Linked DNA regions of Homo sapiens: regions 1 and 2 are each linked to region 3. Evidence: fine-mapped expression QTL. A gene starts in region 3. Each other region holds a variant in brackets. All regions are shown on one strand. Distances are from middle to middle.

The links.
Region 1: its variant is fine-mapped to the expression of NTN1 in pancreas (GTEx, PIP above 0.99).
Region 2: its variant is fine-mapped to the expression of NTN1 in tibial artery (GTEx, PIP above 0.99). The same link has a PIP of 0.9 or more in aorta.

Annotation. Positions count from the first base shown.
Region 1 is chr17:9,336,449-9,344,716 of GRCh38, forward strand. All of the region lies in intron 7 of STX8 (syntaxin 8), which reads right to left. Among named protein-coding and RNA genes, the nearest start is that of STX8, 240 kb to the right of the region's middle. The variant T/A (reference allele first, on the strand shown) is at 3,781.
Region 2 is chr17:9,158,302-9,166,301 of GRCh38, forward strand. NTN1 (netrin 1) reads left to right here. Exons shown (of 7, transcript NM_004822.3): 3 at 4,512-4,700. Among named protein-coding and RNA genes, the nearest start is that of NTN1, 140 kb to the left of the region's middle. The variant T/C (reference allele first, on the strand shown) is at 4,317.
Region 3 is chr17:9,017,921-9,026,164 of GRCh38, forward strand. NTN1 (netrin 1) reads left to right here and starts at 3,590. Exons shown (of 7, transcript NM_004822.3): 1 at 3,590-3,665; 2 at 4,391-5,471. The coding sequence starts at 4,454. RefSeq lists silencers at 2,952-3,001, 3,052-3,841 and an enhancer at 2,988-3,531.

The DNA.
Region 1 (8,268 bases), 320 kb after region 3:
TTCTTGAGATGGAGTCTCACTCTGTGTCCCAGGCTGGAGTGCAGTGGCACGATCTCAGCTCACTGCAACCTCCGCTTCCCAGGTTAAAGCAATTCTCCTGCCTCAGCCTCCCGAGTTGCTGGGACTGCAGGCGCCCGCCAACACGTCCAGCTAATTTTTGTGTTTTTAGTAGAGATGGAGTTTCACCATATTGGCCAGGCTGGTGTCGAACTCCTGATCTTGTGATCCACCCACCTCGGCCTCCCAAAGTGCTGGGATAACAGGTGTAAGCCACCGTGCCCAGCCTACTTTCAATTTCTAACTGGGTATTTAGAGGGGTAGTAAATATAGCTAGAAAAAAAAAGCTTCAGGGTGAAATGGTATGTTTGATATTTACTCACCAAGGTCTTCCCCTTTTATTATCACTTTTTGTTAGTTTCCATTCTTATTCCTACAAGGCCACAGCCAGAAGTGGGTGCAGGAGAAATGAAGTTCTGAACATTTGAATGAATGCCTATTTCAATTCCAATCATTCCCTGGAAAATGTTAAGTTTAAAGTAAAATGGAATGAGGTAGTCCTAACAGCTCAGGAAACAATAAAAGGGAACTGAGAGCTTTACACGTCAGAAAAACTCTCAGACAATGCCTAAGAGGATTGGAAAGAAATTTCTAAAACATGTCGTCCCTACAAACACACATGAAAAACTATCTTGAGAATTCCACAGGAAAATATACATCCATTTAAAAAAGAAACTTTGAAGCACAAAAATTAAAGAGAAAAGGCTTTTTCCCAGAATACAAAACACTGCTTGAGTTGTGGAAGAAAAAGAGCTCATTAGTATTTCAAAGGAGGTTGATAACTTATTTCAATGTCCATACTGGGATAGAGGATGAGCCAAGTAGTATACTCCTCAAAATCCTAGGGACCACTTACTCTCCTCTGCCATCTCTTATTTTATTTCTTTTTTTGAGATCGAGTCTCATTCTGTTGCCCAGGCTACAGTGTAGTGGTGTAATCTCAGCTCACTGCAACCTCCACCTCCTGGGTTCAAGCGATTATCTTGCCTCAGCTGGGATTACAGGCACACGCCACCATGCCCCGCTAATTTTTGTATTTTTAGTAGAGACGGGGTTTCACCATGTTGGGCAGGCTGATCTCGAATTTCTGACCTCAGGTGATCTGCCCGCCTTGGCCTCCCAAAGTGCTGGGATTACAGGCGTAAGCCACTGTGCCCGGCCAGAACCTGCGTATTAACAAGATCCCCAGATACTGCGTCTGTGCTGTTCTGGAGGACATACCATCCCAAATCAACCCTGAAGGACTGAAAAGTTAGTGAAGGGAAATGCGGGATAGAAAAGAGGGCAGGTATTCTGGGTAGAGGCGGGAATGTGTACAAGGCCACCAAAATAAAGGAAAGCCAGGGATGCCAACTGTTCAGGGTGGCTGGATCCTAGTCCATGGAAGAGAAAAAGAAAGTGTGTATTGAGAAAGGGTGCAGTGTGGCCAACGGGGAAGGAAGTGAAGGAAGATTCGGCCTGAGACTAGATCCTGCTAGGCTACGGAAACCAGTGCTGAGGAGTTTGGACTTTATTCTGAGGGCTTTGGGGCACCTCTGAAGGATTTTTTTTTTTTTTTTTTTTTTGAGATGGAGTCTCACTCTTGTCGCCCAGGCTGGAGTGCAATGGTGTGATCTTGGCTCATTGCAACCTCCGCCTCCCGGGTTCAAATTATTCTCTTGCCTCAGCCTCCAGAGTAGCTGGGATTACAGGTGCCCGCCACCACGCCCGGCTAACTTGTGTATTTTTAGTAGAGATGGGTTTTCACCATGTTAGCCAGGCTGGTCTCAAACTCCTGACCTCAGGTGATCCGCCTACATCAGCCTCCCAAAGTGCTGGGATTACAGGCGTGAGCCACAGCGTCCAGGTATTCTGAAGGGTTTTTAAACTGAGGAGTGACTTGATCAGATCCCCTGAAGACACATGGTGCTTCAGCTCATTCCACTCCTGAGTAATTCCTTACTCATTTCAAACTACCAAGAGTCCACCCATTTTGTCTGTGCTAACTCAAGTCTCTTCCAGTCATGGTGGCTGGAACTGATCTGTTTCTCAACCCTCAACTCCTGCAGCACTGTGGATGGACCACTCACATGGTCTTTGTCATGGCCACTCCATTTCTGCAGTGAGATTTTTGTCTACTCTCTTCTACTGATACAGCATAGCTTTTCAAAGAACAGTTTCCAAGGACCACCTATTTCAGGATCATCTGAGGGTATTTAATAAAATCAATTTCCAAGGCCCAAGACCCCCTGAATCGGTATCTCTGTGTGTGGGGCCCAGATGTTTGCATTTTAAAAAACATTCCAGTCAGATGACGTGGCTTACGCCTGTAATCCCAGCACTTTGGGAGGCTGAGGCGGGTGGATCACAAGGTCAGGAGATCGAGACCATCCTGGCTAACACAGTGAAACCCTGTCTCTACTAAAAATACAAAAAATTAGCTGGTTGTGGTGGCGGGTGCCTGTAATCCCAGCTACTCCAGAGGCTGAGGCAGGAGAATGGCGTGAACCCGGGAAGCGGAGCTTGCAGTGAACAGAGATCATGCCACTGCACTCCAGCCTGGTTGACAAAGCGAGACTCCGTCTCAAAAAAAAAAAAAAAAAAAAATTCCAGGTGAAGCTCTTAAATATGAAAGCCAGAGAATCACAGTATAAGACTACAGCATCCTGAGACCCAGAGCCATCCCAGAAACCCTAGAATCAGACACCGCACCTCTGTCTACAACCTTGGCATGCGGCTGCTCAGGGAGACAAGTAAACGAAGTGTTTTAAATTCCTCTCTCTACTCATTCTTGATTACATAACTAATCAAAATGCTTCCAAAAACCAACCAACCAATCAAGAAAACTTCTAGGAACTTAATTAACTCCAGTATAAAAGGACTCCTCAGGCCGGGTGCAGTGGCTCACGCCTGTAATCCCAGCACTTTGGGAGGCCGAGGCAGGTGGATCACGAGGTCAGGAGATCGAGAACGTCCTGGCTAATACGGTGAAACCCTGTCTCTGCTAAAAATACAAAAAATTAGCCAGGCGTCATGGCAGGTGCCTGTAATCCCAGCTACTTGGGAGGCTGAGGCAGGGGAATTCCTTGAACCCAGGAGGTGGAGGTTGCAGTGAGCCGAGATCGCGCCACTGCGCCACTGTACTCCAGCCTGGGCGACAGAGTGAGACACCATCTAAAAAAAAAAGGACTCCTCATTCCTGCTGTGTACTCTGTCTATTGGCCTATGCTCAGAAAGGGCTTTTTCTTTATGAGACAGGAATGTGCCCGGCTTCTGTCATCACATATATAAGACAGACAAGACTGGAATCAAACTTTCCCACAGAATTGGCGTAAGGACCGAAAGAGACATTATGTATCTTTGAAAGCGCCATGGATACTGCTTACTCTGACTATTATTATGAATGCTTTAAGTTGGTCATTTAGGAGCTAAGAAACACTGATGAGATTCTGTCTTGTATGAGCATGATTGTGGTGTTTCTTTCTCTCTCCTGCTGGACTTTAAGCAACTTGAAGGTAGGACTCTAAGGCTGACGCAACCGCGGGATCCTCCCATAGCACAGCATTGCTGAAGGGATTCAATAAAAATGTGATGAATGGGTGAAAGATGACCATGTCACAGAAGCCCACGTGTAATAAATAGTTCATTTGGAATGTGCACCTGCGTGGGAATTCTCCAAACACCTGCCGAGGCCAGTAACTCCTGTTTTCTCAGCCTATCAAAGAGGGCAGCTGCTCCTTTCCC[T/A]CAGGTGACCTTCTCTCATTTATCAAAGCTGGAAAGGGCTGTGATTTTCCCCAACATGCAGACTCTCTGAGCAATTAATAGCCCTCTCAAACAGACTTGTCCTCTAATGTCGATCTGGGAAAATGCCATTTAAAAATTTGTTTCACTGAACATTTTCACAAAATGAAAATTAGAAGATATTAAAGGCATCTGGCTATGTTAAGTAACGGGAATTTATAGTACTTAAATTTATCTGCAAAAGGAAAACATGATAAACACTAGCATGGTTTTCTATCATTTAAATCCTAAATTCACAGGATGGAACATTCAACTCCTGATTTTCCAGAAAATCTACTCTTATGAATCCTAAAGTTATCTTGAAAGGCAGGCTTTGTATTTTTCCAGTGAATATATTGCTGTTTCTTATCAATGTTGCACTTGATTTTTTTTTTTTTTTTTTTTTTTTTGAGATGGAGTTTTGCTCTTGTTGCCCAGGCTGGAGTGCAATGGCGTAATCTGGGCTGACCGCAACCTCTGCCTCCCGGGTTCAAGCGATTCTCCTGCCTCAGCGTCCTGAGTAGCTGGGATGACAGGCATGTGCGACTATGCCTGGCTAATTTTGTATTTTTAGTAGAGACGGGGTTTCTCCATGTTGGTTAGGCTGGTCTCAAACTCCCGACCTCAGGTGATCTGCCTGCCTCGGCCTCTCAAAGTGCTGGGATTACAGGCGTGGGCCACCGCACCCAGCTGAAATGATTTTTAAATTGTAAAATTTAAATTATAAATTATAAATTATATATATAAATATATATTATATATATAAATTATAAATTGTAAAATTTAAAATTGTAAATTATAAGGGACTCTTTTCTCTAGTAGATACCACCTTTAAAGTATCATGTGGAAAGTCGAAATTAAGCAATTTCACATGGAAATGGAGGTTTTGGCTTGCCTTGAAAAATCAGAAGAGACTGCGATATTGGGCCCACATTGCTACCTGGCAACAATCACCTGGGGCTGACCTCTTGAGAGGGATGCTCTCTGGTTTTGCTTCTCTACTGCAGCCTCACTCCTTTCTATGCCCGCCTGGCCTCCACAATGAATAAAGAGAAGGAGGCATGGCTTCTCTTCCAAAGATACATATATTCATGGATCTCTAATAAACGAAAGAGTGAAAATACGTAATTGGCATAGAGGGAAAGTAGAGTAGTCGCCACAAGACATGACTTTTTTGTTTGTTTGTTTTTTGAGACAGAGTCTTGCTCTGTTGCCAGGCTAGAGTGCAATGGCGTGATCTCGGCTCACTGCAACCTCTGTCTCCTGGGTTCAAGCGATTCTCCTGCCTCAGCCTCCCGAGTAGCTGGGATTACAGGCATGTGCCACCAGGCCTGGCTAATTTTTGTATTTTTAGTAGAGACGGGGTTTCACCATGTAGGCCAGGCTGGTCTCGAACTCCTGACCTCAGGTAATCTGCCGGCTTCGGCCTCCTAAAGTGCTGGGATTACAGGCATGAGCCACCGCGCCCGGCCAAGACATGACTCAAGTGCAGCTGAAGCAAGATTTGAAGTTGAACAGCAACTGAGGGGAGCCCACTGTGTGAGCAAATGCTGAGAAGCAGAAATGGACAAGCTAGGTTTGGGGGAGAAGAAATAACTGGTTTGGCTATAGTGGGAGGTTTCCATAGGGGTAGAGGAACAAGGTGGCAGACGAGACCATGTAGAGAGACCGTGGAGAGCCTCAGATCCAGAGCCAAGGACTGTGGGCTGTGCACTCTAGGGCAGCCATCCCCAACCTTTTTGGCACCAGGGACCAGGTTCACAGAAGACAATTTTTCCACGGCCTGGAGGGGAAGGGGGAGATGGTTTTCGGGATGAAACTGTTTCATCTCAGATCATCGGGCATTAGAGTCTCATAAGAAGCACACAACCTACATCCCTCGGATGTGCAGTTCACAATAGGGTTTGCGCTCCTATATCTAATGCTGCCACTGATCTGACAGGAGGCGGAGCTCAGGTGGTAATGCTCGCTCAACCACCGCTCACCTGCTGCTGTGCGGCCCAGTTCCTAAAAGGCCACAGACCGGTACCAGTCCTGGCCCAGGGGTTGGGGACCCCTGCTCCAGAGCCAGGTTGGAGCTCTCCAAGGTTTACACTAACAAGGGCCTGGCAAGATAAGAGTAGTGTTTCAGGATGATCCAGTGGGGGGCCCTTCAGAGAATGGTGACAGAGAAAATGCAAAGGGAGAGCCCTAAGCGTGCAAGACATGCTATGGCCTGAGGGGCAGTAGGCACTGGAGGAGGAGAAAGAGCTCCACATAGGAAAGGAATTGTCCAGCCAGAGCTACGGGAAGAACAGTGGTGCCAAACACAAATACCGGTGTGGGCTGGCTTCTTGTCTGGGTTTCAAGTGTGTGTGGCGCGTGTGTTTATGATAGTGGGGTGAGGGGTTGCAAATGATGAATTTGGTTTAAACTTTTTGAGTGCCAGGAAATGACAGGGAGATCAAGAGACAGATGTGCAGATAAAAGTGCAAATGGCCGGGCGCGGTGGCTCACGCCTGTAATCCCAGCACTTTGGGACACTGAGGTGGGCAGAGCATGAGGTCAGGAGTTCAAGACTAGCCTGACCAATATGGTGAAACCCCGTCTGTACTAAAAATACAAAAATTAGCCAGGTGTGGTGGTACGTGCCTGTAGTCCCAGCTACTTGGGAGGCTGAGGCAGGAGAATCGCCTGAACCCGGGAGGCGGAGGTTGCAGTGAGCCAAGATTGTGCCATTGCACTCCAGCCTGGTGACAAGAGTGAAACTGTCTCAAAAAAAAAAAAAAAAAAAAAAAAAGCTGCAAATGTGAGGATGCACTGAGTGGTAAGGACAGCTGGAGCCAGGAGATGGAGAAGGTTTCTAAGAAAAACATGCCCCAAGAGGATCTGGACCACAAAACCCAGAAATGCTTCTGCTCCAGTTCAAGAAGCAGTGGAGATGTGATTCTTCGATACGTAGCCTTAGAAACCAAACCACACTGTTGCCCCGGGTACTCTCAACCACTCCAAGTTTTTATAGAGCCTTTGGAATGATGGATGGGGCTCAGTTTACCCAGAGACAGTAAAATCAGATGAAAGGGGTTAATTAGAACTGTTCTCTCTACTGCTAGGTGCAAAACAGCCACATTGGAGCCATGATGAAGCTACGTCTATTTAAACAGCCAAACTGATCATTGTAACTGTTTTCTCTCTTAAAATAAACCCCATGCTTTTAGCCATATTCCTGCTTCTTAAAGCCTCTCATGTGAAAGATGCCAAAATAATCCTGGACCTTAAAGAGGTCTTGATTTATCATTTCACAGCTGGTTCCCATGCACCTCCCTTTCCACTTTTTCAGAGCCTCACTATATAAATCCTGCCATCAGATCAGGGAGGCAGGCATGGTGGTGATGGATGTCAAACCTGCGATGGGGAAAGTGAAGAGCAGTTCCCTACTGGGAACAGATAAGCCAGCAGACTTCTCACAGACTGCTCCTGTTACCAACTCAGCCAACCCCACCCCCTCCTCCTGCTCCCTTGGCCCTCCCCATCTGCCGGATAGGGCCTCCCTTCTGCTGCGAAGCTTCCACTCCTGTAGTGTTCTGGTTTGCGTTCTTTGATGAGAAATATTAATTCCAGGTTAATACTGATGTTAAAAAATAAAAGCCCGACCTAATTAAAAATTCAAGTTAATTTTCACCCAGGTTCCCTTAACTTTTAAAAAATGTTCTTTTTGTAAAAAAGAGTAAATAGGTTACATGAGGAGGCCCAAGTACCAGGAATTGATTAGTGGCACAATGAAAAAAGTTACAAAATATAACAACAACCACTTAAAGCAAAGTTAATCTAGTTTGCTCAACAGCCCAGGACTTTTGCTGCCTAAGTACAGGATGCTTCCTTGCATATACTTGCAAATTTCACCTTTTAGGCTAAGGAGATGTTTTTCAATTGATTTGGGAAGGAGGAAGGGGTCAAGACCACGGAGGCTCCAGGTAAAATGCTGTAGGTGGGCAGTCTGCCTCTGATACTAAACTTTTTTTTTTTTTTTTTTTTGAGATAGAGTCTCGCTCTGTTGCCCAGGCTGTCATGCAATGTCGTGATCTTGTCTCACTGCAACCTCTGCTTCCTGGGTTCAAGCAATTCGCCTGCCTCAGCCTCCCGAGTAGTTGGGATTACAGGCGTCCGCCACCACACCCAGCTAATTTTTGTATTTTTAGTAGAGACGGGGTTTCGCCATGTTGGTCAGGCTGGTCTCAAACTCCTGACCTCAGGTGATCTGCTCACCTCAGCCTCCCAAAGTGCTGGGATTACAGGCATGAGCCACCAAACCTCTTCCTTTCTTTGCTCTCTTCCCATCACCCAGCCCTCCTCTGTTCAGTGCCCAGGCACACTGAGACCCCACACTGCTGTCTCTGGCCTGCAAAGATGCACAATGCCACCTCATGTAGGCCTGCTTGCCTGCCCCACCCACACCCCCAACTCAGGTCATAA
Region 2 (8,000 bases), 140 kb after region 3:
AAAGTGGAGGCTGAGCTCCCAGAAGGGGCTCAGAGGTTAGGGCAGGCCCCTCTGGAAAATGCAGGAGAAGGACATTTGCCTCCAAGAAGGACAGGATGATGCTGTTATCAGGCCTTTCCTGGTACAAGGGAGGCCTGAGGAAGTGAGGCCTGGGTGATCCTTCCAGATCCCTGTCCCCAGGCAGGTGTTCCAGTTCCTGTGATTTCTGTGCTTGTAAGAAAGATGTAGATTCTGACTGTAGTCTAGGCCAGCTGTTACTTCCAGTGATAGGGGTCTTTTCCTCTGAGCCAGTGGACCAGGAGCCAGAAGGGTAGGGTTCCCATCCTGGGCCCCCCCATTTACTGGCTCTGTGGTCCTGGGCTGGTTGGTCATTTCACCTCTCTGAGCAGGCCCCTGTCACCCTTGTCTGGCAGAGTGAGTCCAAAGAGAGTGAGTGTGTGCAGGCGTGACAGTCGTCTGCAGGAGGGCAAGGTGCAGCTGCAGCCTCTTTCTTTGCACTTGGTTGAACTCAGCCCTGGGAACACTTGCCGGAGGACAGTTAGCAAGGTTCTGGGACTCATCCCCTGGTCTAATTTGGCTTCTGGCTGCTTTCAGACTTCAGGGCAGGAGCTGTCTTTTCTCCTGCATCCCACACTGCTTTTTCTAGGGCCCTGTCCACCTCTATTTGTAAATGAAATGACTAATGGGTGAGTGACTTGGCAGTGACTCTAGGAAGAGCACTTAAAGAAGCTTGTCATAACATCAGAGAGAAAAATTAAAGAGGCACATGTTTTTCTAAAGATCACAAATTAAAGTAACATGTGAATGAGAAACTTAAAAATATTTACAGCTTATATGGCAGAAAAGACAAACAATGTTTAATCCTCCTGATCACTAGACAGCATGAAAAAAGTCCACCTTATTTGAAAACTGGGCAAATGGCATGAACAGGCAATGCACAAAAAAGAAATATAAATAGAAAAACAATACATGGGGAAATGCCCAACCTTCCTAGTAATCAAAGACATGCAAATTAAAATCGTCTGTGTGTGTGTGTTTTCTCTCAGACAGAGTGGCCAATATTTTTTAAAAAGAATGCCGATACCAAATGCATATTATTATTTTCAAGCACGTGGTGAAATAGGAGCTCTCATATCCTGCTGGTAGGTGTATAAGCCAGTACAGCCTTTCTTGAGGGCAGTTTGGCAATTTGGTGCCAATGTTAAAAACATGTAGAAGGGCTGGGCGCAGTGGCTCATGTCTGTAATCACAGCACTTTGGGAGACCGAGGTGGGTGGATCACGAGGTCAGGAGTTTGAGACCAGTCTGGCCAACATAGTGAAACCCTGTCTCTACTAAAAATACAAAAAATTAGCCGGGTGTGGTGGCAGGCGCCTGTAATAGCAGCTACTCGGGAGGCTGAGGCAGGAGAATCGCGTGAACCTGGGAGGCGGAGGTTGCAGTGAGCCAAGATCACGCCACTGCACTCCAGCCTGGGCTACAGAACGAGACTCCATCTCAAATAAATAAATAAATAAATATAAATAAAAATATAAAAACATGTAGGTTCAAAATTCAACCCAGTAATTCCATCTAGAGAAATTTGCACTACAACAGTCATTGGAGCAGAGCACAAATATATATGTTCAAAGGTGGTTCAAGGTGGTTACCTTTATGTTCAAAGGTAGTTGACATTTATAATAGTGAAAAATGGGAAACGACCTATAGGTGCCCAACCCTGGGAGGTCCTTCTTTTAAATGCCTCCACTTCCAACTCCAAGAGGCCCACTATGCATAGCCATGCAACACAGTGCCAGAGGAATTTTATTTTTTAGTTTTTAATTTTTGTGAGATAGGGTCTCGCTCTGTGGCTCAGGCTGGAGTACAGTGGTGGCTCATGGCAACCTCCACCTCCCAGGTTCAAGAGATTCTCCTGCCTCAGCCTTCCGAGTTGTTGGGATTACAGGCGCAAACCACCATGCCTGACTAATTTTTGTATTTTTTAGTAGAGACGGGGTTTCACCATATTGGCCAGGCTGGTCTCAAACTCCTGGCTCCAAGAGATCTGCCCACCTTGGCCTCTCAAAGTGCTGGGATTATAGCTGTGAGCCACCATGCCCAGCCCGGACATCTTTTAAACATTGTGAAGATCAGTATTTGACACAAGAAAATGTTCATTATTATGAAAAAAAACCCCCACAAAACTAGATGTATAAAAGTATGATCCGTGTTTGTAGGAAAGAATTAAATAGCTCCACAACTGAACAAATGTTAATGAAAGCCTGAAAGGAAAGATCTCTGTAGCAACTGTGGTTGGTAGAAATAGGAGTGTGTTCCTTTCTCTTCCTGCTTTTGTTTTTTGAGTGCATGAATTAAATATATATTTCTTAGGTTGGGTGTGGTGGCTCACGCCTGTAATCCCAGCACTTTGGGAGACCAAAACAGGCAGATATCTTGAGCCCAGGAGTTCGAGACCAGCCTGGGCAACATGGTGAAACCCTGTTTCTACAAAAAAAAATACAAAAAATTCGCTGGGCATGGTGGCACATGTCTGTGGTCCCAGCTACTTGGGAGGCTGAGGTGGGAGGATCTGACAAGCCCAGGAGACAGAGGTCTCAGTGAGCCAAGATCTGTGCCATTGCACTCCAGCCTGGGCAACAGAGTGAGACCCTGCCTCGAACAAAACAAAACAAAACAAACCCAGCATGTATTTCTTTAGAAATTCCATAAAACGTGATTTAGAACACACTGAGCGTGAAACCATGTTGTGGAGTGAACGAGAAGAGGCCAGACCTGTGCTGGAGTAACCCTGGGGTTGGAAGCCTAAAGAAGAAGGCAGGTGACAGGCAATCCTGATGTGGCACAAGGAAAGCTGTGTGAGGCCATGCTGGGTGCCCACGCCAGGCTGGTGGGGTGGAGCGGGGCTGGGAAGTAACATTGGAACCAAGACCTGGGGGATGAGAAGGAGGCAGCCAGATAAAACGGGAGTGTCCTGGGAGGAAGGGAACAGCATGTCCAGAGCCCCAGAGGGGCAGGCGAGGGGTCCTTGCACGTGGCTCTAGAAACAGACCAAAGTTTGGAATCACTGGAGCATAAAGAGCGAGAGGCTGAAGGACGAGACAGGACCAGCTTATTTGGAGCCCTGAAGGCCATGCTGAGTGCTTTCGACTTGATCCTGATGGGCGCCCTCAGATTGGTGCTTAGAAATCCTGCTCTGGGCTGAGTGTGGTGGCTCACGGCTATCATCCCAGCACTTTGGGAGGCTGAGGTGGGAAGGTCACAAGGTCAGGAGTTCAAGACCAGCCTGACCAACATGGTGAAACCCCATCTCTACTAAAAAGACAAAAATTAGCCTGGCGTGGTGGTGTGCACCTGTAATCCCAGCTACTTAGGAGGGTGAGGCAAGAGAATCGCTTGAACCCGGGAGGCGGAGGTTGCAGTGAGCCGAGATCAGGCCACTGCACTCCAGCCTGGGCGACAGAGAAAGACTCCCGTCTCAAAAACAACAAACAAACAAAAAGAAATTGTGCTTCTGCTGATCATGCTGAGGGGAGCCTGTGGGACTCAGCTCAAGCCACAGGGAACCTGAGGGCAGGATGGTAAGGAGTGAATGATGTCGGGCAGGTGACTCTGGGTTCAAGTGGAGACCCCAGACCTGAAGCTGGAAATACTGATTTGGGAGTTGGGAGCACAGAGATGATGAGTGGTGAAGGAGACAGATGGGGAGGGTGTGGAGGTGGGCAGGGAAAGGGAGCTGAGTCCTGAGCAATGCTCATGGGGAGGGAACAGGTGGAGCAGAGCCATAGCTGACAATGTGGGGGTCCTCTCCCCAGAGCAGGGCTGGGCAGCCTCCGGAAGCTGGACAGGTTGAGGTGGGAAGAACGATGGTGTGCAGGCCCCAGAGTCCTCGGTGGACGAGGGGGAGGGGGAGAAGGGGAGGCCAGGCTGGCAGCAGGGGCCTCAGTAGTTTGCTCAGCTGCTACAACAAAGTGCCACGGGCTGGGGGCTGAAACGCTAGACGTTTACTTCTCACAGTTCTGCAGCCTGGAAGTCCAAGATCAAGGTGTTGGCAGGGTTGGTTGCTCTGGAGGCCCTTCTGCGTGGCTTGCAGATGGCCGCCCTCTGGCAACGTCCTCACGGGATCTCTCCTCCGTGCACATGCGTCCCTGCGTCTCTCTGTGTCCTCATCTCCTCTTCCTACAACGACACAGTCATACTGGCATAGGGCCCACTCTGAGGGCCTTGTTTTAAGACTCTGTCTCCAAATATGGTCACATTCTGAGGTACTGGGGGTCACGGCTTCAACATAAGAATTTTGGGAGAACCTTAGCCATGTA[T/C]TGTTACGTGCCCAATAAATGCTTACGGGTACAAACAGGAGGAGCCGAGGAGGAGCTCCTGGAGCACAAGTCTGCCTGCCTGGCTCTGCTAGTGGAGAAGGGAGGAGTTGAGGGGTGGGGTTTCTTTTGACGCTCTTGGGTGCCTGTCCTCCCCGCGCCCCTGCGGCTGACACCTCTCTCTGTCTCCCCCTGCAGCCTGTAACTGCAACCTGCATGCCCGGCGCTGCCGCTTCAACATGGAGCTCTACAAGCTTTCGGGGCGCAAGAGCGGAGGTGTCTGCCTCAACTGTCGCCACAACACCGCCGGCCGCCACTGCCATTACTGCAAGGAGGGCTACTACCGCGACATGGGCAAGCCCATCACCCACCGGAAGGCCTGCAAAGGTGGGCTACACGTGGCGGGGCGGGGGGCTGGGGAGACCCGGGGAACATCAGTCCTCCCGCTCCCTCCTCGCTTCCTTTTCTATTTTCTTCCAGTCTGTACAAATTGGCGTTGTCTGAGGTCATCTCTCTCTCTTTCTCTCTCTGTGACACACACACACACACACACACACACACACACACACACGCCTCCCTGGTATTTGGAGGTGTAAGCCAAAACAAAGGGGTGATGGAGACATGGCTCAAAGGAGAAGAAAGGAGAAGGTGGGATCCCCTACAAGGGTGCAGGGCTGCGGCCGCCAACACCTCTCCCTCCCCTCCCCCTCCTGGGCTTCTCCTCTGCACAGGTGTGCTGCATACCAGAGGGCTGCGAGTCATGTTCGCCAGGCTTACCGTTGGGACAAAGGACTCTCTTTCACCAAATGCACGCAGACTCACTTCTTTGGATATGTGCGCACCGCCCCTCACTCCCCCCCGAAACACACACACACACACACACACACACACACACACACACACACACGTACAGTCACAGCGGAGTCGGCAGTTTCAGGGGCAGGGTCTCAGAAGGAACATTTAATCCATCTGCAAATAGCTTTACTTCTCAGGACAAAAAAAAAAATTAAAAGGAGACGGGAGACTATTTTCGTCCACTGAAGCAAGCACTAATGTTTTAACTTTCTGCTGTTTGTTTTTCTCGTACCAACAAAAATGAAGCAATGGTCAGATGATTCAGAGAAGTTGATGAAATGCCAGAGAATTCAGTGATGCTGGAGGGTGAGAAGCGGGGCCCCCCCCACCCCACAAAATCTTTTGGGAATTCCAGGAACCAGGGCTTTCCTGCTGCAAAACTTGTGGCCTAAGGTCAGGGCCTGCCATGAACATGGCTTCCCAAGAAGATATTTACCTCTGAGGGCTCATGGGCAACACCTCGGCATGGGTGGGGTCCTGACCTGGACTTGTGTAGACCCGAACACACCAGGGTCCCAAGCCACGGCAGACAGGCCCAGGTGGCGTCCTGCAGGAGAGAAACCCTTCTGTGGCCACTGCTCAGCGTGTGGATGAAGCAAAAGTATCATCTTCTTAACAGGAAGTCCACCAGATGTTGGGCACTTGTGTGCAGGACTGACTGCATAATTTGCAGGGCCCAGTGCAAAATGAAAATAGGGGGCTTCCAGCACTTTGGGAGGCCAAGACGGGCGGATCACCCTAGGTCAGGACTTCAAGACCAGCCTGCCTAACATGGTGAAACCCCATCTCCACTAAAAATAGCAAAATTAACTGGGTGTGGTGGCGGTTGCCTGTAATCCCAGCTACTTGGGAGGCTGAGGCAGGAGAATAGCTTGAGCCTGGGAGGCGGAGGTTGCAGTGAGCCAAGATCGCGCCACCGCACTCCAGCCTGGGTGACAGAGCGAAACACTGTCTCGAAAAAAAAAAAAGAAAGAACATCTTGGGGGAAAAAAAAAAGAAAGTAACAAAGTAGGGGGCTTCTTATTCCAGAGATATTAAGAATTTTGAAACAAGGACAGCAGAGTTTCAACCAAGCTGGTGCCCTTCTGAGCACGGGGCCCATGAATCCAACCCAGCCCTGCTTATGTGGAACACTTTTCTCAAAATAAACAGGTTCCCAATCTGTCTCTTCCAGGAGAAATCCCTTTGATTCCAAATGCACAGGCATAAGTAGAATGGCTCCCTCGGTCAAGCAAGGTGTCCTTCTGTGTCTGCGGACTTACGGCTGCCTCTGGTGGTTGCCAAGAGAAACATGAACAGAAAGGTAGCTGGGCTGTTTCCACATTTTTTAAAAAATCACGGTTTCAGGTGAGAATCCCCCAGAAGACTGAGCAGAGAATGAATGGGAAGGTGGCCCAGGCAAAGGGACCCGAGAAACATCTGCAATGCCAGAAAGGTGTGACCAGGACAAGCCCCGGGAGAGATGGCTTTGGGCTTCCAGAGAACATAGTTGGAAGGTATCCAGCTCCTTTGCCTGTGCCCAGAGTGTTTGTTGTCTCTCTTTTACAGAAGAAATGGAGGCCAGGGGTCTTGTAAACAGCTGGCTTGCACATAGATTTCTTGGGAGTTCAGCCAAGAAATTTTACCCAACAGCGGCCACTCAGGTGGGCAGTCCTGTGCCTGAGAGTGAGAAGGTCTGGGTGAGAAAGGGCACTGGTCACTTCCTGTCATGCCAGTTTCTGCTGTCCAATTAGAAATGTATGTTTCCCAGAGAGGCAAGAAGGGGCAGGGCCCTGGTCACCTCCACCTACACCCTGTTGCTGTGGACAGGGACAAGAGCCATTTGCAGCCTCTCACCACTCAGAGTGAGAGACGTCAGGAAGCCACAGGGTCCCGGGAACCCGCAGGCCATTCTCCAGGGGTCTGCCACTCTGGCTGAATGGCATGATATTGCCCACCTTCCTTTACTGGTTTGTAGGAGGGCCAGATGCAAATAAATGAGGATGTGTTCTTGTTTTACGAGTTACAACATTGTGGCCAGCCTAGGTGGCTGTGTTTTCCTTCCCAGCCATGGACAGCAGCTGCCCCGGCCTTGGTGGGAACCCTGGGAGAATAACTCACAGGACGGGAAAACCTAAGGATGGATTCTACTCAGAAAGACACAGGCAAATTCTACTGAAGAAATGTGGCAGGAAAGGGTGGGACTCTTAGTGCCTGTTGACTGGGGAGGAATGACAGTGTTTCAAGGAAACTGCCATCAGATTGGTGAAGAAAGACAGTGCTTCAAGGAACTTGTCACCTGATTGGTGACAGAAGACTACACTTAAAAATATTTGCCACCTGATTGGTGAGGAAAGACAGGGCTTTGAGGTTTCTGCTTTCTGATTGGTGAGAAAAAGCATTGCCCAGAGATCTCTGCTTCATGATTGGCAAGAAAATATCTACTCTCTGATTGGTGAGCAAAAATTTGACCCAAGAAGTCCAGCCATCTGATTGGTGAAGAAAGACATCTCTGGAAAGTCCAGATCTTTCCCCTCAGCTCTTTCCTTTCCTGGTATCATGCTCTTATGGGATATAGGACACTTCCCACCAAAAAGAGACCCTGAGATCTTGGTAGGAACCATCGTTAGGAGAAGTTCAGATGCTGGCGGGATGTGTACCCTTGAGATCTTCAAACAGGGGTCTCCTGGTCAACCCCCTTCCACCACCACCACCACCACCACCACCACCACCACCACCACCACCACCACCACCACCACCAGCACCTCCTGCCTTGTATTCCCAGGGCCAGATGGTTCAAGGAAATGGTTCCTTGCGAGGTTTGATATTTGACAGTTTGCTCTCAGAGGCTTC
Region 3 (8,244 bases):
AAATCATTAAGATAACTGGGAACATTTTGCCCAGAAGAGATAAAACTGAGGGATGATAGAGGACTGGTTTCAAGAATCTGAAGAGGCAGAGAACCTTGATCTGGGCTGCTGTGTAGCGTAGGGTTTGGGCCACCTGCAGACTTAACAGAGAGGGGGGTTTGGAATGGACGTAGAGGAGTTCCACCGTATTACAGGAGGTTCTAGACCTCCTGGATACAAGGTGAGTAAGACAGTCCTGCTCACCAGGAACTACTAAAGATGATAAGCGTAGACCTAAGTGACCACAATAAAACTGGAAGGTGACCCCGCTCATCCTCTCCTGAAGACCCCTGGCCTAAGCTCAGCTGGCAATGTAGAAAAGCCACACTCTACCAAGAGCCATTTCAAACTTACTGCCATGCAAGGGCCATCAAAAGCTCTGTGGACATAGGCTGGGCGCGGTGGCTCACTCCTGTAATCCCAGCACTTTGGGAGGCCGAGGCGGGCAGATCACTTGAGGTCAGGAGTTTGAGACCAGTCTGGCCAACATGGTGAAACCCCGTCTCTACTAAAAATACAAAAAAATTAGCCAGGTGTGGTGGTGGGTACCTGTAATCCCAGCTACTTGGGAGGCTGAGGCAGGAGAATCGCTTGAACCCGGGAGGCAGAGGTTGAGAATGCGCCATTGCACTCCAGCCTGGGCAATAGGGCAAGACTCCATCTTAAAAAAAAAAAAAAAAAAAAAGGCTCTGTGGACAGAAACAACATTCAGGAGGAAGGCTTGGAAAGCACTTCTCAATCCAGTCTTGTAGATGCTCCAAAAGGTACCCCAGTCAGCTGAGCACCCCAATTTGCTTCTTTTCCATTCCTCTTTGCTGGAATGTCTTTTCCTGACTTGGGTTTTGATGCGATGCCATCAGCTTACATTCAGGGGGATCACAGAAACTGTCCAACCGAGCTCACTGTTGTGACTGTTTTGGGGATGTTGTCAGGGACGTTTGCTCATTACCCCATACTGTGTTCCCTTTCTGGGCCACGCCCCCACAAGAAATTCCTATCTGATTTTAGTACCAAGAATAGTTGTAATTCCCTTGAGCAGTAGGTCTGTTTTTATCTCATGGACACTGGGAATTGTGTAATGAACATGGTCTCCTCATTTTAGCTGCAGGAAAGCTTAGGGACAAATTTGTGGCCCACTCAGAAGAGGTGTAGAGGTTGGAACTCCAGGGTGCATTGGACCTGTATCCTCCTCTCGACTTTGTCTCCCTTCTTAGCTTTTCTTTGTTCTCTTACTTCATATTTTACTGTGCAAAACTGAGAGCATACAAGCAAAGATAAATAAAAATCACCTGTAATCTCATTATTCCGAGATAACCACTATTAACTGTGTTGTCTTTTTATGCATACTTTTTAAAAAATTAAAATGACATTATACTGTGTGTTTTTAATTTGCTTTTTTCATATTATAATATGTCATGAACATCTTTCCCTGTAATTAAGTGTTCTCTAAATGATTTAAAATTTCTGTATAGATCAAGCGACCTCATACTAACAGCTAACATTTCTATATGCATGTACTATGTGCCTGGTTTTATGCATATTTACATTTGCATACATGAGAAAGCCTATTTATATGTGTTACAGACCTGCAATATGTATGTCTATATCCCATCAGCTATAATATTCAAATGTGTCAACTCACGTGATGCTCACAACCCAGTGGGGTAGAAAGTATTATCTCCCTTGTACAGATGGAGGAAACCAAGGCATAGACTTTCCATAGTCACACAGCAGAGGCAGAATTTGAACCCAGGTACCCTGGCTCCGAAGCGTTTCCTCCTAAGAGCTATGCTGCCTTTCAGTATACCATTGCGATTTCACAGGTCACCATGGTTAACCATTTCATTTATTTCCTTTGACCTCACTTTTAATTTGTTATTGTGTCATATTTTATGTACCCTTGTAAGTTACCTGAAATCCTTTCTGCCACAAGGTGAGGTAAGGCATAAATAAACAGTGCAGAGTGTGGTAAACGGCACAAGAAGGCACAGCTAAATTGCTACCCCGGGGTAAGAAGATGAATCCAGGCTGTCCTGCAATGGAATGGATTTATTTTCTTGAGCTGTGGTGAGCTCCCATCCCTGGAAGAGCTGGCTTGGGTGGCCGTCTCTCTGGGAGGCTGGGGAAGGCCTTCTTCCAAGGAGACGGAGCTGGGCCAGACGAGCCCCGAGGCCCCTTCTTAGATTCTCAGGGTTTATGAAAATGCCAATAAGACAAACTGAGGCACTTAATGGAGCTAATGCAGCAAGGCAGCCCTTGGGCCGGAACCAGGACCTGGGGCTTTTCATCCGGGTCTATTACTGGACCACACATCTACAAGTAACAAATAAACGAGCAGAGATTCCGTTCCAAACTCTCGGCCCAGTGTATTCCTTTCCCAGAGCTCTCTGGCTGCTGTTGCAAGATGACCAAAGGATGCTGTCACTGTCCTCAGTCTTTTTATTGGGGCGATGGAGAATGAGGCAAGGAGGGGCTGGGTGGCCCCGCAGATGCCCCATGACACCATCATTCGGCAAGGTTATGCATTTGACGAATGCCCTGCAGTGGAAGGAGCCCAGGCTTCTCTTCCTGTTTTTGATGTTTACTTGGGGGTTGATCTTGTGCGAGTTTCTTCAGCTCCCGGGACCCTCAGTTTCCTCATCTGCAAAATGGAGTTAATACAACAGCAAAGCTGCTGTGGAGGTCCCATGAGCTATTACAGGGCTTTGCACCCTTAAAAATGCGGTTGAGGAAGTACCGATACGCCTGCCTCAGGGGATCTGGGGAGGGCTGGGCTGTCCCCATGCCTGAGACCAGGCAGGCCCGTCTTGGAGGGGCGGTGGCCAGCGTCCAGGTGCTGCCAGCTTCCTACCCCTTCAGCCTCCTGCCCACCACTGCTCCCTTGGCTAGAACGAAGCCGCGTTCCCGACAGACAGGCTCACGCACGGTGATATCCGTGGGAGTGCGGGCGAGCAGCCCCTCCTCGCCGGACCCCGGGGGCTTCGGGCAAAAATGGAGAGCAGGCAGAGGTCACATCCTCCTCCTCTTCCTCACGCTCCCGGGCTGCGTGCCCACAGGGGCACAGCCCTGTGCGCGGTGCCACCGGGGGCCATCAGGCTGGGTTAGAGGAAGGCCCGACCTCCGCGCAGCAAAGAAAACAAACACAGATGTGTTTGGCTGGGACCGGGAGGGAGAAAGTGGCCCCCTTCCCCCGCCCGCGCGCTCCCCCGGGCGTGAGGCTCTCCGGGCGGCGCGGGGCGCGGGCGAGGCTGACAGTCCCCGGCGGCCCCTCCTCCCCCACGGGGTGCGCGCCTGGCCCGGCCCAGCCCCCTCTCCGGGGTTTCCCCGGGTGCTCTCCTCGCTTTCTCTTTGTCTCTGCTGTTCTTTCTCGGGCTCCCGGGTTCCCACCCGCCTGTGCTCTCCCTCTCGGGCGTCCGGGCCGGTTCCCTTTAACTTTCTTCTTTCCCGGGGTGAAAACTTTGCTCGGAGCTGGCGGCAGCTCGCGGACGTTATTGGCCGGCGCCCCGCCCGGCGGCCCCGCCCCCCGCCCCCGCGCTCCCCTCCGCCCCTCACTCCCAGCGCGAGTGGCGGCGGCGGCGGAGCCTTCGGGGGCGAGCGCGCGTGTGTGTGAGTGCGCGCCGGCCAGCGTGAGTGTGTGTGCGCCCCGGGCGCGGGCAGGGCAGCACTCCGAGCTCGGCGGGAGCGGCGGGAGCCGGGCGGCCGCGTAGTCACTCGGGCGAGAGAGGCGGCGGCGGGGCCGGGACCGGGGCTGGGGCTGGGGCAGCGGCGGCCGCGCCGGGCATGGAGCTGGCAAGCCCGCGCTGAGGCGGGACGCGCCTGCTAGCAGCGAGCGAGAGGCTCTCCGGCGACCGGCGCGCGGGCTCCCCGGAGGGGCCAGGCAAACTTTTCTTTCTCTTTTGCCCCCTCCAGAGGTAAAGTCCCGAACGCGGACTTTCCGGCGGGGACGCGATCGGGGGGCATCTGAGAGGGACCCCGGGCTGCGAGACGAAGGGGCGCGGGCCGTGCAGAGTCGGGGTCCCCCAGCTCTCCTGCGCCCGAAACTTGGGGTGCGAGGGGGGCTGGTCGCGGACGGGGAGACCGGCTCAGGCATGCCCCTCGGGCGGCGTGGGGGCGGCGGTGGCGGGGAAGCAGAGCGTTCTCCCGCCGGGCGGGGAAGAAGGGGCGCGAGCGGTGCGGACTTGGAGGGCCCCGGCTTCGCCGCCCGCGGGACTTTGGGGGAGAGAGGCGGGCAGTCGGCTGCGGGGTGGGTGCCCAGGAAGCCGGGCGTTCTCCCGCATCTCCGCTCGCCACCCCGCCGAGAGCTGGAGGGCGCGGGGCGGGCTGGCTGAGCGCAGCTCCCTTCTCTCCGCAGGCGCCTTCTGCGGCAGGCGGACAGATCCTCGGCGCGGCAGGGCCGGGGCAAGCTGGACGCAGCATGATGCGCGCAGTGTGGGAGGCGCTGGCGGCGCTGGCGGCGGTGGCGTGCCTGGTGGGCGCGGTGCGCGGCGGGCCCGGGCTCAGCATGTTCGCGGGCCAGGCGGCGCAGCCCGATCCCTGCTCGGACGAGAACGGCCACCCGCGCCGCTGCATCCCGGACTTTGTCAATGCGGCCTTCGGCAAGGACGTGCGCGTGTCCAGCACCTGCGGCCGGCCCCCGGCGCGCTACTGCGTGGTGAGCGAGCGCGGCGAGGAGCGGCTGCGCTCGTGCCACCTCTGCAACGCGTCCGACCCCAAGAAGGCGCACCCGCCCGCCTTCCTCACCGACCTCAACAACCCGCACAACCTGACGTGCTGGCAGTCCGAGAACTACCTGCAGTTCCCGCACAACGTCACGCTCACACTGTCCCTCGGCAAGAAGTTCGAAGTGACCTACGTGAGCCTGCAGTTCTGCTCGCCGCGGCCCGAGTCCATGGCCATCTACAAGTCCATGGACTACGGGCGCACGTGGGTGCCCTTCCAGTTCTACTCCACGCAGTGCCGCAAGATGTACAACCGGCCGCACCGCGCGCCCATCACCAAGCAGAACGAGCAGGAGGCCGTGTGCACCGACTCGCACACCGACATGCGCCCGCTCTCGGGCGGCCTCATCGCCTTCAGCACGCTGGACGGGCGGCCCTCGGCGCACGACTTCGACAACTCGCCCGTGCTGCAGGACTGGGTCACGGCCACAGACATCCGCGTGGCCTTCAGCCGCCTGCACACGTTCGGCGACGAGAACGAGGACGACTCGGAGCTGGCGCGCGACTCGTACTTCTACGCGGTGTCCGACCTGCAGGTGGGCGGCCGGTGCAAGTGCAACGGCCACGCGGCCCGCTGCGTGCGCGACCGCGACGACAGCCTGGTGTGCGACTGCAGGCACAACACGGCCGGCCCGGAGTGCGACCGCTGCAAGCCCTTCCACTACGACCGGCCCTGGCAGCGCGCCACAGCCCGCGAAGCCAACGAGTGCGTGGGTGAGTGGGGTGCGGCGGCGGAGCCGGCGGCGGGTGGGGCCGCGGGCGGGAGCTGCTGGGCCTCGCAGCGGCGAGTTCATAGGAGCGCGGGTCGAGGGAACGGCGGGAGGCGCGTTCGCCGATGCCCGGGACCCGGGAGGGCTCAGAGCAGGTCCACTCGCTCGCGTGGCGCTCGTGGTGGACGCCCGAATTTGCGCCCAGTGCTCTCTGCGAAGCCAAGAAGCAGCAGGAGAAATGTTCCCGGGAGGGGGTTTGGCAGAACATTTGCAGATAGGTCTCCGCTAACCCTGGATCCAAACGCAAACATTCATTGCCTTCCCCCTCGTTGGGTTGGACGCTGGGATTCACCTGCACCCACCCCCCTTTCCCAAGGCTGCAGCTGGGCTCGCGGTTGGGGACCCCGGCCCAGTTCCTGGGAAGTTCCAACTCCACACCTACAAATCCCTTGGGAGATGGCAAAGAACTGTTTGTAGTTTGGGGTCAGTTCGGTACCCGACGAGTATCACTCCTGCCCTCCATTTGTCTTTTCATGATTTGAAACTATTTTTGTCTCTCTTTTGAACAGCGTGTTTGTGTTAGCAAAAGAAGAATGATGTGATTTCAATTAATTACTATCTGCTGATTACAACGGAGCGTTCAGTAATTATTTTAAACGAATTCAATTCTGGTCTAAAAAAGTATACCAGATTTTTTTTATTAGCTTCAGGCTTTGGTGAAATTAAACAGTTTTGAATTAACTAAGGGTCCAGCTTCTCACTTTTTAAATAGGGTTTCATTTCCTGAAAGAGAAATCTGACAAAACCGGGTGAATACGGCTGGGTCAGAAATGAAGCTAAAAAAGGATACGTTCTGCTTCTGAATTGGACGACTTTGCTGCTGCAGAAGCTCTCAGAAATCAGTTTCTCCCCATAAAAAGAAAAAAAGGGTGAGGGGAGGTAGCAAGACTACACCTTACTTTTTCAGTATGGGAAGTAAAGCTCCAAAGCCCACATTTATTTGAGCGAAAATTATTTAGTCTGTAAATGTCCCATTTGGTGTGCATCCTTTATGAACGTACAGATTTTTCCTCTCCATCTCCCCATCTCAAACAGCCAGTGTGAGGCTCTTCAATTGCTTTGCCCCTCTTAGGCACATTTCAAAGTTTGCTGGTCCCCACAAACACACGTTTTGAGGTCTGGTTCTGATTAATTGTGTCATGTTGTTGTCGAATAGTTTGTGCCTCATGACTGTGGATGCAGAGTTTTGAGCAAGGGAATGGAAAACATGTCTTGGAGGGCCGGATCGCCGCAGAGGCCCAGTCAGGCGTCCTGGTCTGAAGACGCCGGGCCTCCCGCCTCCTGTTGCAAGGGAGGCCTCCATTTTTACGCTCGTGTCCCGCTCTTGCAGACATAATTGTTTGTCCCCTTTCTTTTAAGGATCAGAACTAGTTTCCAGTCTGAAGACACTTTTCAAGATTTCGCAGAGAGAGAGAGAGTGTAGTTACACTCCGACTTAGTAGTCTTCTAGAATAAAATTCCTTTGATCTGCTCAGTTCCCTCGGAAATGTTGGTTTTTCCCATCTCTTCTTTTCCCCCTCCTTCCTCTTTTCTTTTCTTCCCTTTGTGCGTAAAAGCCCTTTATTGACATTTAAAGGGATTCCCAGGGTTTTGCTATCAGTTTTAGTTTGTATGTGCATATGAAAGATAACTTTGTCTTGTCACCATCAGGGTCTAATTGGACAAATGCAAGTGAATACATTTAGGCGAATAAACTTGATGTGGTGGTGAAATTTCTCTGGCTTGAAGATTTGCCTTAGCGTTGGTATTGTTCAGATTCACCACCCACCCCCAGGTCTTGCCGTCAGTTTGGATGTGGACACGTAACCTGCGTTTGTTATAATGATGGTCATGCACTTGAAATAATCTCTATAGTTTGGGATTTTGTCTCTTGACCAAAGCACTAACTATGCACACAAATTGGATTGACCTTTTTTTTTATTGGCTAAATTGAGCAATCAACATATTAACGAATGTAATTAGTAACCGTTTTTGTTCAAAAAGTTTAATTAGGCTTAATAAGTACATAATCTACATGACAAATGATTGGCTAACAATATTTTTCTGGGTTTTACTGAAGTTATTTTAATTCCCAGTAGTTAAAGTATCTTTAAATCTTGCCAATTATTCAGTCATCTCATAAAAGCAAAGCCAATTCAACTATGTTAAAGTTATTTATAGTTTCCTTTTTGAATAGATGTTCTGATACCTTGTAGATATAGCTGGGAACATCAGATTGAAGTTCCCATAAAGTCTTAATTGAAGTCTTAGTGATTTTTCCATCATTCTGTAAAAGAGAAAGACAGCAAGGACAATTTAGGGGTGATTTACAATTAAAGGTTGAGCTTTTTATGAAAAGGCCCTGTAGTGGAGATATGTGAATGAATTAGTATTTGACAGGTGTTCTGAGATACTAAAGGGCACTGTGCTAGGAAAAAGCATTAATAAATCCTTCAAAAGTAACTTTGGACTATCAGAGGCTCAGATTTTCCTCCCAACATAATCTCTTCTTGCGAATTTCACGCTGTTGACATATAAAGTCAAGCTACCCAGAGTATTTACAACTATGGCAAAGTCAAGAAGTATATATTTTTTAATTCCCATAATCAGTCTTAATAACAATGAGCCTATTACTGTGCTGTTTGGTCTTTGCTTTTATAAAATAATGATATGTGATTTATAATAAATTGAAATGGTACCCTTCCCTAGGTTAACCCTGTGCCCCACCCTCCCGCAAA